Regions from separate parts of the Homo sapiens genome. Here region 2 is linked to region 1. A link means that fine-mapping ties the variant in region 1 to the expression of a gene that starts in the linked region. Tissue or cell type: whole blood. Region 1 holds a variant in brackets; the other region holds the start of a gene. All regions are shown on one strand. Distances are from middle to middle.

Evidence for each region. PIP is the estimated chance that this variant, and not a neighbour inherited with it, causes the effect.
Region 2: MGST1 starts here. The variant in region 1 is fine-mapped to the expression of MGST1 in whole blood (TOPMed, PIP above 0.99).

Annotation. Positions count from the first base shown.
Region 1 is chr12:16,446,552-16,451,817 of GRCh38, forward strand. It overlaps a transcript of MGST1 not described here. Among named protein-coding and RNA genes, the nearest start is that of MGST1, 100 kb to the left of the region's middle. RefSeq lists enhancers at 3,407-3,981, 3,982-4,554. The variant C/T (reference allele first, on the strand shown) is at 2,910.
Region 2 is chr12:16,345,755-16,350,754 of GRCh38, forward strand. MGST1 (microsomal glutathione S-transferase 1) reads left to right here and starts at 1,891. Exons shown (of 4, transcript NM_020300.5): 1 at 1,891-1,956. RefSeq lists enhancers at 981-1,910, 2,841-3,770.

The DNA.
Region 1 (5,266 bases):
TCCCAGAAAGTTATGCCTCCCTCCTTACCACTCCAACCTTACCAGTCCTGTGTTAATTGAGACTCCCAGGCCCCTGATGGTTAAATGCTGCCACTTAGCCTTTATTGATTCCATTTGTTCTGTGGCAAACAAAATCTCTGTGACAGCCCCTCCTATCATCCACTCTGTGACATCCCCTCCTGTCAAGCCCCAAGTGGTGGCTTGGGGAAGAGAGCCACCACTGAACTTCTTGTTGATTCTGGTATCCATCTCCCTTGTACACTCCTGATGGCCTTCTTAAATGCTTGGGGAACAGAGCCACCACTGAACTTCTTGTTGATTCTGGTGTCCCTCTCCCTTGTACACTCCTGATGGCCTTCTTAAATGGTACTTCCTCTAGGCCTTCCCATGGAACAATATAATCCTCTGTGGGTCTTCTGTCCTCACATCATATAGTCTTTGCAGCATGCCTATTTCCCTAAGCCTCTCTATTCCTTTCTCCACAGTCTGCCATAGCAACTCAAGTAATGCAACTTTACTCAGCATGGACCGTCACTTTCTCCAGACTTCTAAGAGATGCCATAGCAGAAAATTTATGCCTTTCCCTGCAGTCCTTGTCAAGTGTTAAATCCCATGGCCTTATATCCTGAGAGGATGGCTCTAAATCAATAAACTCTCCTTTATCTAGTTTCATGTCCTGCCTCCTTGATCAAAACTCTTAAAACCAGTCATTTATCCAAATATGCTGGCTAATCATTGAAGCTCTTTTGGGGGTATAGTGTCTTTCCTCACCACTCAGGTCTGGTATAACCTTGAGTTGCTTTTGATATAATTTAACCCAAAGTTTGGGCCTGGCATTTAGGAGATGAGATGAGGGAAAATCCTGAAGATGACCCTGTTGCCTTGTGGGAGAGAGGACTCTGCAGTGTTTTCTCATATGCAAGAAGGGTAGCTGTGAAAAAGGAAGGATGCACTATCTCTGCAGGATCTAAGGATTTAGAAAACTTTGGGGAACCCAAATCTTTGGGTGAATAGGTGCATCTGACTGATCTCATATGTCGGGATACCAGGGATTCCTAGCAAGGGCCCCAAGCTTGGCATAATAGATTTGACATAGTTAAACATTCTATACACTTTCCCAGCAGCCACTTTCAGCCAGGCATCCTGGAGGCTCTCCTGGCACTTGCACAGCTCAGATATTCAAGGTCCTGGTGGAAGATTATGGTGCTCACCCATGGGCCTCCCCTTTTTCATGGGCTGTAGGCCTCAGTTGCTGTCTAAAGCCTACAAAGAGTTCCTTTATATATTTTTCCAGATTTTCTAGTTGCTTATGGTAAGAACTTAATTTCAAAGCTGGTAACTGCATCAGGGTTGGAGCTGGAGGTCTCAATCAATGATTGCTGAATAAATAAATTCATTGCATTTGAGATGCATCTGGACATCTTGTATGTTCTGATGAATACACTGAGTAGGCATTGGGAGTCATCTATGTATGGTAGTAGTTGAAAGACACTGTACAGGTTGTCGAGATATCCAATGAAGCTTATAAAAAGGCCAAAGAGAGAAAAATGTTAAACATTTTAAATTTTAAAATGAGAAAAGAGCAATATTGAAAGGACAATGAGTACGACAATTAAGAAAAGACAGAAAGAAGAAACATAAATATTTTATTTAAACATTATTGTCCTTCAAATTAACAAATACTTACTGAATTTCTCCTATAATTTATATAATTAACAAAGAAGAGATTGTATGGATTTGTGGGTGAGTCAAGAATTAGGGTTCAATGAGGAAGAATTTTTGAAAGACTAAAAGTGTTGGGTTTCAGCCTAACTACTTAAAACATAAAGCAGTATAGATCTGGAGGATAGGGTTAATTCAGTCATCAGCTAAGCAAGGGCAGGCTTAAGACTTTGCTGCTATGATGCACACGAGATTATCAATTCAAAAAATATCAAGGTGGAAGAAAAACAGTAATGGTTCCAGAATTTTCATAGTGATGGAGATTTGGGGCAAAAATATGGTTGAAAGCAAATTCAGAAGACTTGTCTGGAGGTGACATTTCTCCATAAACACACTTTTAAAATTTAAAGTCTGTGTTATAGATGAATAAAAATAATCAGATTGATGATTTCAAACACATGTTGGCTGACTCTATTCTTATTTACATAATTATAGCAATTGTTTAAATTGGGATGGTTTTGTGAAGCAGAGGATTTTGGAGGACCTTTATTTCTCTCCAACTCCACCCCAAGCTATCCTTATCCTGCAAATGCAATGCATGACTGTGTTAATGAAAGAGGAGGCTGGGAGATTCCACATGAAAGAGTGAAGTAGGAAACATTATCCCAGTTGGTCTGAAAGGCATATATGTACTTTAAGAGATATCATTTATAAGAAGAGAGGGGGAAGGTTAGATGTTTAAAAGCTGAGCTAACAATGACAAGAATAGTCCATAAAAATGTTGGTAATTTTAATCCTAGTGAAACAGGAAGAATAATGATGCTATGCAGTCTTACGTTGAACTCTATGTAACTTTAGTTGTTATATTAGGCCATTCTTTTGCATTGCCATTAAGAAATACCTGAGGCTAGACAATCTATAAAGAAAAGAGGCTTAATTGGCCCACAGTTCTGCAGGCTGTACAGGAAGCTTGTTGTCAGTATTTGCTTCTCGTGAGGGTCTCAGGGGACTTACAATCATGGCAGAAGGTAAACGGGAGGTCAGTGTATCACATAGCAAGAGCAGAGCAAGAGCAAGAGTAGAGAGGTGCCATACACTTTTAAGCAATCTGATCTCGAGTAAACCCACTCATCACCAAGAGGATGGTGCTAAATCATTCATGAAGGATCTGCCCCAAAACCCAAACACTTCCCGCCAGGCCCCACCTCCAACACTGGGCATTACACTTCAACATTTAAGACAGGACC[C/T]CCACTCAAACCATATCAGTTGTTAAGGTGAGTATACAGTAATACATGTCCAGGTGGATATGTTTCATAGTTAGTGAAAGGTGTACAATTGGACGAAGAAAAATCCATGGCCATCTGCCTGTCTGTGACATAATAAATGCTCCATGTCATTGTTCATCAAAACAGAATGGCAATAAGCAAGATCAACTATATTGTGATGCCAATAGGGGGCCCTGTGGCTTTGTGATAAAATCCTACTCATTTATTCAAATTTTGCCCCAAAAGAACCATATAATTAGCTCCATTAATAAACAAGTGAGTCCTTCCACTCATCCATCTATCCCCCCATTCTTCCATTCTCCCATTTAGTGCCATTCACCTTCGTTCTTCATTAGTTAACAGTGAGAATACTCAAAAGGCAAATAGCTCTGCAGTTTTCTCTCCACCTCATTGGAATTGTGGGAACTTTTATTGAGTGGTGAGGGTTAGGGTAATGAAACTTGGAAAACTGCCATCCTAGGATCCCTCTGTGCTACCAATATGCAAATAATTTAACAGTAATGCAGTCAAGAGTTCCCTGAGTAAAGACTCTCCATTTTCATCACTGTTGGTAAGTGCCAAGAGGGACAGATGAGAATAAGTTATAGCCACACTGTGACATGTAATAAATCTTCCAAAAGAGGTTTACATGTACTCAGCTCTTTGGCTTTTATCCTGTGTATGACACTTCTGTTTGCTTTGCATCTAAGCAACAGAAAGTAATCAGCTGCTAAGAACTTAATTATTGGTTGCACGGATAACCCTTAGGGTGTCTGTGTCCAGTCACTTGGGCCTCCTTCTACATCTCTCATCACATAAAGCAATATGTTTCCCTGAGTGCCTGCCTCTCTGGAAAGCATGGTGGTTCATTTCTCCTTCAAGAGGAAGACAAAGGGCTGCTGAAACAACAAAATACAATGAAATGGCTGTTCCTTGGGAAAATGAGCCACTAATTGTTCTTGATGACTGAAACAAAGGAAGAGTCCTAGGGCTAGAAATCACTCAAGAGCAGAGCCTTGATAACAGTCAGAAGCTGAGAGGTAGAAAGTGTAAGGAATTCTAGGGAGAGGAGTGAGAAAATACTGTAACAGGCTTGCAAAATCCAACTCAGAATCGCACTAGTGTATTAATGAGACAAGTTAAACCAGTCACACTCCCACCTCTTAACCAAACTGTTAACACAATTTAACACACTTTCAAAGGGGCACCCCTATGATGTGCTAATGAAGTCACTTTCTTCCCAGCATGAGTGAATGGGCTTTTCCCCCTTTCTTGAGCTCTGTTTGATCAGGAAGACAAAATATTCAAATATCTTGTGAATGTAGGAGGCGGTTAGGATGGTTTTCAAATATATATATTCCGTGTGTGTGTGTGTGTGTGTGTGTGTGTGTGTGTGTGTCACACACGGAAACTGAGACATAAAGGACCAAATCTACAGCTCAAAGTTAGTACAATTATCTGAATTTGAATTGGTTTTCTGCTTCAGCTTTTCCTTACTGTTATTTAAATGCTGTGAAATTAATAAATACTGTTTAGGAATTTTCTCTTTTAGGATTATAAGTAACCTGGAAAATAACAATAACTGAAATGCTCTGTAATTTGTAAGCAGTCAACAGATGTATAAGTATCATTTCAGTTTTCAAAATTACATTGTAAATTGTTTGAATTGGACTTTGAAACAATTTTTCTTTTAACTATAGGTGGTGGATACATTCTAGAAACTTGCATCTTAAAGCAATCAAACAATTTATTTTCAGTATAGATTCAAGACTAAAGCAATCTCCGAATAGGTATTGTTTCACTTAGATAGCTCCAAAGACAAAAACTAGGTCCCATGAGGCTAAAACAGTGGTATGCATAGGGGGGTTTATTTTTACTATCCTTTAAACTGTCCACATACAATATTATACACACGCAAAGATATACAAAATACACTTTTTATGCATTACATATTTCAAAATAAAAGGAATTCTCAAAAAAACTTTGTTCCATAGCTGAAATATTAAAATAAATTGAGTAGAGGCAATGCATTTAGCATTCTTAAAAGTTTCTTGAAAGATTTTATAGAAAAACTGCCCATTATTCTAGTTGACAACAGTTATATGAATTTTTTAAAAAAGAAAACCTGTAAAAAACAAAAAAGGTCTTTAAACTATATGATATACAGATCACTATCTATATTTTTTTAAGAGCATCTAAACTTTGGTGGAAAAGGTTTTATAAGTTCTTATTGCTCTTATAAATCTTTGTGGTTATGTGACAATGATTCATGTAATATTATTGCATATCTGACTTTGGCAGTTACCCATTACACCATGTTAACATATTTCAATAAGTAA
Region 2 (5,000 bases), 100 kb before region 1:
GTTTATTCAATTAAACCAACTGCTAATATTCTACCCAATACAGTGTCATATATATATCCGTATGTATATATATAATATTGCCTGATACACACAAACACACACACACATATATATATGTATGTAACAGGCAATAATTGTTCGTGATTTAGTGATAGTAGGAACTCAGTATTTATTCATTGATCAATTAATAGTTTGAACACATTCTATATTTAGAGCATTAGATGAGTCAAGTGCTACTTTCTTTTTTAAAAAAATGTTAGAACCAGCTGGACGCAGTGGCTCACGCCTGTAATCCCAACACTTTGGGAGGCTGAGGCAGGTGGATCACGAGGTCAGGAGATCAAGACCATCCTGGCTAACACAGAGAAACCCCGTCTCTACTAAAAATACAAAAAATTAGCCAGGCGTGATGGCAGGTGCCTGTGATCCCAGCTACTTGGGATGCTGAGGCAGGATAACGGTGTGAACTCGGGAGGCGGAGCTTGCAGTGAGCTGAGATCGCGCCACTGCACTCCAGCCTGGGCTACACAGGCAGACTCCGTCTCAAAAAAAAAAAAAAAAAAATGTTAGAACCATTCAACTAGCATTCTGTAGACCAAATTATCTAAACAGTAGCTCTCCTCTTCCTTTTTCTGCCATGTTATCCATAAGATTTGGCCTGTATCACCTTATAATAAATGAAGAGAGTCTTAAATTCTTATAATACCAAACTCCTTTGGAGAGAATTCAGAATAGATTTATGTCATCTCAAATTCTATCCTATTCCAGTTAATGTTACAGACAGATTCTAGTATACTTTACAAAGATAGGTGAATAAGTAGAGTTTTGAAAAGATACAGACATAAAAGTGAAGAACAGATGCCTTCTGATGCTAGATTTTCCAAAACTCCTACTGTTATGCTTATATAGAAATCATTCTCAGACCTTCCTTGGATTAATTTCTGTTCCTAGAGCAAACTGGTAGTTATTTCTTTCTTTAATAGAACATGAACTTGTCCATCACATCCTAGAAAGTTAGTCCTAGGGATATCCTTTAAAGCCTAAAGGAGTAAATTAAGAGCAAAAAAAGGAAGTAGACCTTGCAACAGGTGGTGAGTGTCTGAGATATAGCACTAGGAGAGAAATAATATAGATTGAAAACAGAAATCCTTAAACATTTCTCATATAAACCCATGAAAGATAGATCCATAAATATTGTGGGGACTATGGGGACTAGGAAGCTTGGAAGTATCCCTAATCTAGATAGTGATGGTAGGCTAAATATCTACGGCTTCCGTAAACGTTCCTCTAAACCTCCCTGTAAAAAACACACTAAGCTGATTGTGTAATGAGCTGATCCAGTACAATTGCCTCCAATTTCATTCTGGACCCTGAACAGGAGGGGACATCGTGACAAAGCAAATTGTCTGGTATCATGAATTTGGAACACCGTAAGTGATCTTTACTGAGGGTTACATTCTGTCATTGTCAGCCTTTTAAGGAGGCCTTGCCACCAGCGCAGGGGAGGTGAAGTCTAAGGGAAGGTAATATTGTCAATGCCTGCTAATTAGTTCTACCCTGGAGATTTTAACTTTCTGCGAAGTTTTTAAAAACAACTTCCAAAACTCTGCTGATCCTGAAATGTTCGAGAATTCAGAGTTCCTAGACAATGGCTACTGTCCCCCTTCCCACTGATTAGGGGAGTTGGCATTTCAGGAACCAGAGTTTCTAAGGGCGCCAAATAGAAGGGCTCAAAGGGAATCAGCAGGCGATGGTTACTGTGGGCGGGTAAATCAGGTGATTTAGAGGAGGGGTTTGGCGAGGTTGGGGTCGGGCTTTAAACGTGGGAGGGCTAATTAACAGGAGATTAACTGGAGAGGGGCGGTGCCTGCGTCCGGCCCGCGCGGCCACAGTCCCTGCATTGCGCGCGACCCGGCGGCGGGACAGGCTTGCTGCTTCCTCCTCCTCGGCCTCACCGTGCGTACTGGGAGGGGAGAAGGGGACCGCATGCAAAGGGTGGCAGGCAGGGAGGGCCAGGGTGGGTGGCAGATGGAAGACTTGGGGGGGTCTCTGCCAGCTGGAAGTGCTTGGCTCCACTTAGCAGCTAAACTTAGCTTTTCAATCGATCGCTTTTGAAAGGGAATTGTATTTCTGTCCCCGTGCGGGTAAGTTTTCCCATTTCTCAAACTCCAGGAATGAAACGAGAGAGTCTTTTCATGCTTGAGTGATGATTTCCAAACTTAGCCTTTTCAAGTCAAAGTAACCTCCTGTTTGAAAGGGTCCCTTGAACTCTGGGGAAGGAGGAAAAGGCACGTGTAGTAATGGAGGAAATGCCTGTAGTTTGAACGACTGCTGTTCTCCCCAAGAGTGCAAAAGCCTGCGATGTCTCAGGTTTCATGGGCATAGTGGCCTTTATGCCTATTGTAAGGCAGGATTTGCTCTTCTGAGTTCACTTTGATAGGAGAAACATCAGCAAGTTTTAAAATAATACTAAATAATACTACTGCTAATAATGCTAGCTATCGAAACAAGAGGATGTGGGTTAGATGATAATATTTTTGTGTGATATTATAGCCAGTGACAAGAGAGCTAAGGGTGAGCCCCTTGGGACGGTTCTCACCTGTGCCCCACTTCCCCAGTCTGGAGGAGGAAGCCATGTGGAAGGAGAAAAGGAGAAGGGAACTCTCTTTTTCGGGAATTAAGGTGTCATATATTGCTCTAGCTGGCTTGGGACAGAGGAGAGAGGAGTGCATGTAAATCTTCTAGTCTCTCTGCTTCTCTTGAAATGTGGCAGTCTGAGCTCCACGTTTATATTCCCCTATTTCTTCTCCCTAATTTCTTACCCAGTGAGTGCTGAGTGGGTGCCCGCAAGCATTGCTGTATAGCACCCAGGCCTCCAGTGAGCAATCCTTAAAGCCCAGTTTTCCTGGGGTCCCAGCCTGCTGTGAGTCCCAGCCTACACCTACCTTTTGCATATGCTTTTCTTGGCCTTAGGATAGTACTGGACTTTGTTGTCCTCTGCTGTTTCCAAAATAAGAGGGCTATGTGTGCGATTATCTTTGGTAATTAAAAAAAAAAAAAAAAAAAAGGCAAATCAGTCCAAATTTGGATATTACCCTCTCTGGCAGACGAGTAAAATTTTTCTACCGCTTTGTTTTAGAGTGGTGTCTATGAATCCCTGAGATTGGAAAAGGAGGTCAGGTCAGCACAGAGAAAGGCCTTACCCCACCACTCTCCCGAGAGGCACCAGCATTTCACCTGCAGCCTCTGGGCTCTGAACCCCACTTTGCATGAGACCACATAGTGGGCTGAGTCTGCAGCCACCACGATGCCTTCAGGAAATGCTAGAATTCATCTAGAGTTCCAGATTAACGTATCCGCAACATGGCCACCGAATTATCTTTTTTCTTTATCTCATGTGTAGTGTTTGTTAGTTTTAGAAGGTACAAAATTGCAGAGTCATGGCCCTGGGGATGCGTGCCCAGATTATTCATGTGTTTCACAATATTGATGCAGAAAGGCTGGCCACCTCATCCTGAGAAGAGAACTTTGCTCATTTTGGCCAAAAGCCTGTAAAGGGAAAGGGCGTTCCTCAACTGAGAAGTGAAGATTCTTCTCTGCTAGATAGTACGGGGGTTTGGGGGGAGGGGTAGAAAACAGGAATGAGATTTGACAAGGAAAGGCCTCCAGAAGACCAGAGCTGTTGAGAATTCTTAGCCTTGATGGTGGGTAGCCCAGAGGTAAACACTTGAGAAAACTAAGTTGCAGTCTTGGTCTCTCCACTGTGAATTTGGGTCATATTACTCACTACTTTTCTGGGCCTTAATTTCCTTACATACTAAAGGTAGAAAAAAATATTATTTGCTCTACCTCAGGATTTTTCGGGTCAAGCGAGATAAAATATGCAAAAGCTTTTTGAAAATTCTAAAATCCTCAGTGCCTAGAACAGCGCCAAAGTCGGAAGTTTTTTATTTACCAAACACACAGCATTTAACAGGTCCCAGAGCTTCTTTTTTTTTTTTTTTTTTTGAGACGGGGTCTCGCACTGTCACCCAGGCTGGAGTGCAGTGGCACGATCTCAGCTCACTGCAAACTCCGCTTCCCGGGTTCACGCCATTCTCCTGCCTCAGCCTCCCGAGTAGCTGGGACTACAGGCACCTGCCACCACGCCCAGCTAATTTTTTGTATTTTTAATAGAGACGGGGTTTCACCATGTTAGCCAGGATGGTCTCGATCTCCTGACCTCGTGATCTGCCCGCCTCCGGCTCCCAAAGTGCTGGGATTACAGGCATGAGCCACCGCGCTCGGCCCCCGCTTTTCTAACTTTATTCAGCTAAGGCTCACAAGAATCCAGTGAAATGGGAGTTCTTATTCAACTCCTTTCACAGGTAAGGTGAAGAGGTCCCAGAGAAGTTAAGTTACACTTACTAAGTGGCAGGGTCGAGATCCACCCGAATGCCAATCTAGTTCCAGAGTTTTGAATACTTGACACTCTACCCCATGTCCTCTTATGAAGAAGTCACCTCCACATTAGGGGACAGAGCTCTGGTCTCTGGCAAGAGAGGTTGAGATACTTATTACCATGCTGGCCAATGAATGGAGAATATAATGAGCAAACAAACCACTGTGCAAACATGATTGATCATTGTAAATATTTTCTATAATTCATAACCAAATTAGTGTTTTTCCCTGCTTACTTTTCTTTGATTATTTCTCCTTCATTCCTTGAATCCTCAAACCACTTAACATTTCATCCTGTTATTTATTATTATACAGGACCACTCTTCTCCCTCCTGACAACCTTTCCTGGTAAAAGGCTTTCAGTAATTTTGTTGTGGCTGCAGAGCCAACCATGATAATGGCTGCAGTTTTGTGCAGCAAACTCGTGGCAATTGATTGATAAATCAGCTTTGGGGGAAAAAAAGTTTACAACAGCATTGCCTTAATCCATGCTATAAACAACTACTATTTCTTAATGTTCTTACCTTAACTGCTCATTACCTGGCTCTTGGGTACCTGTG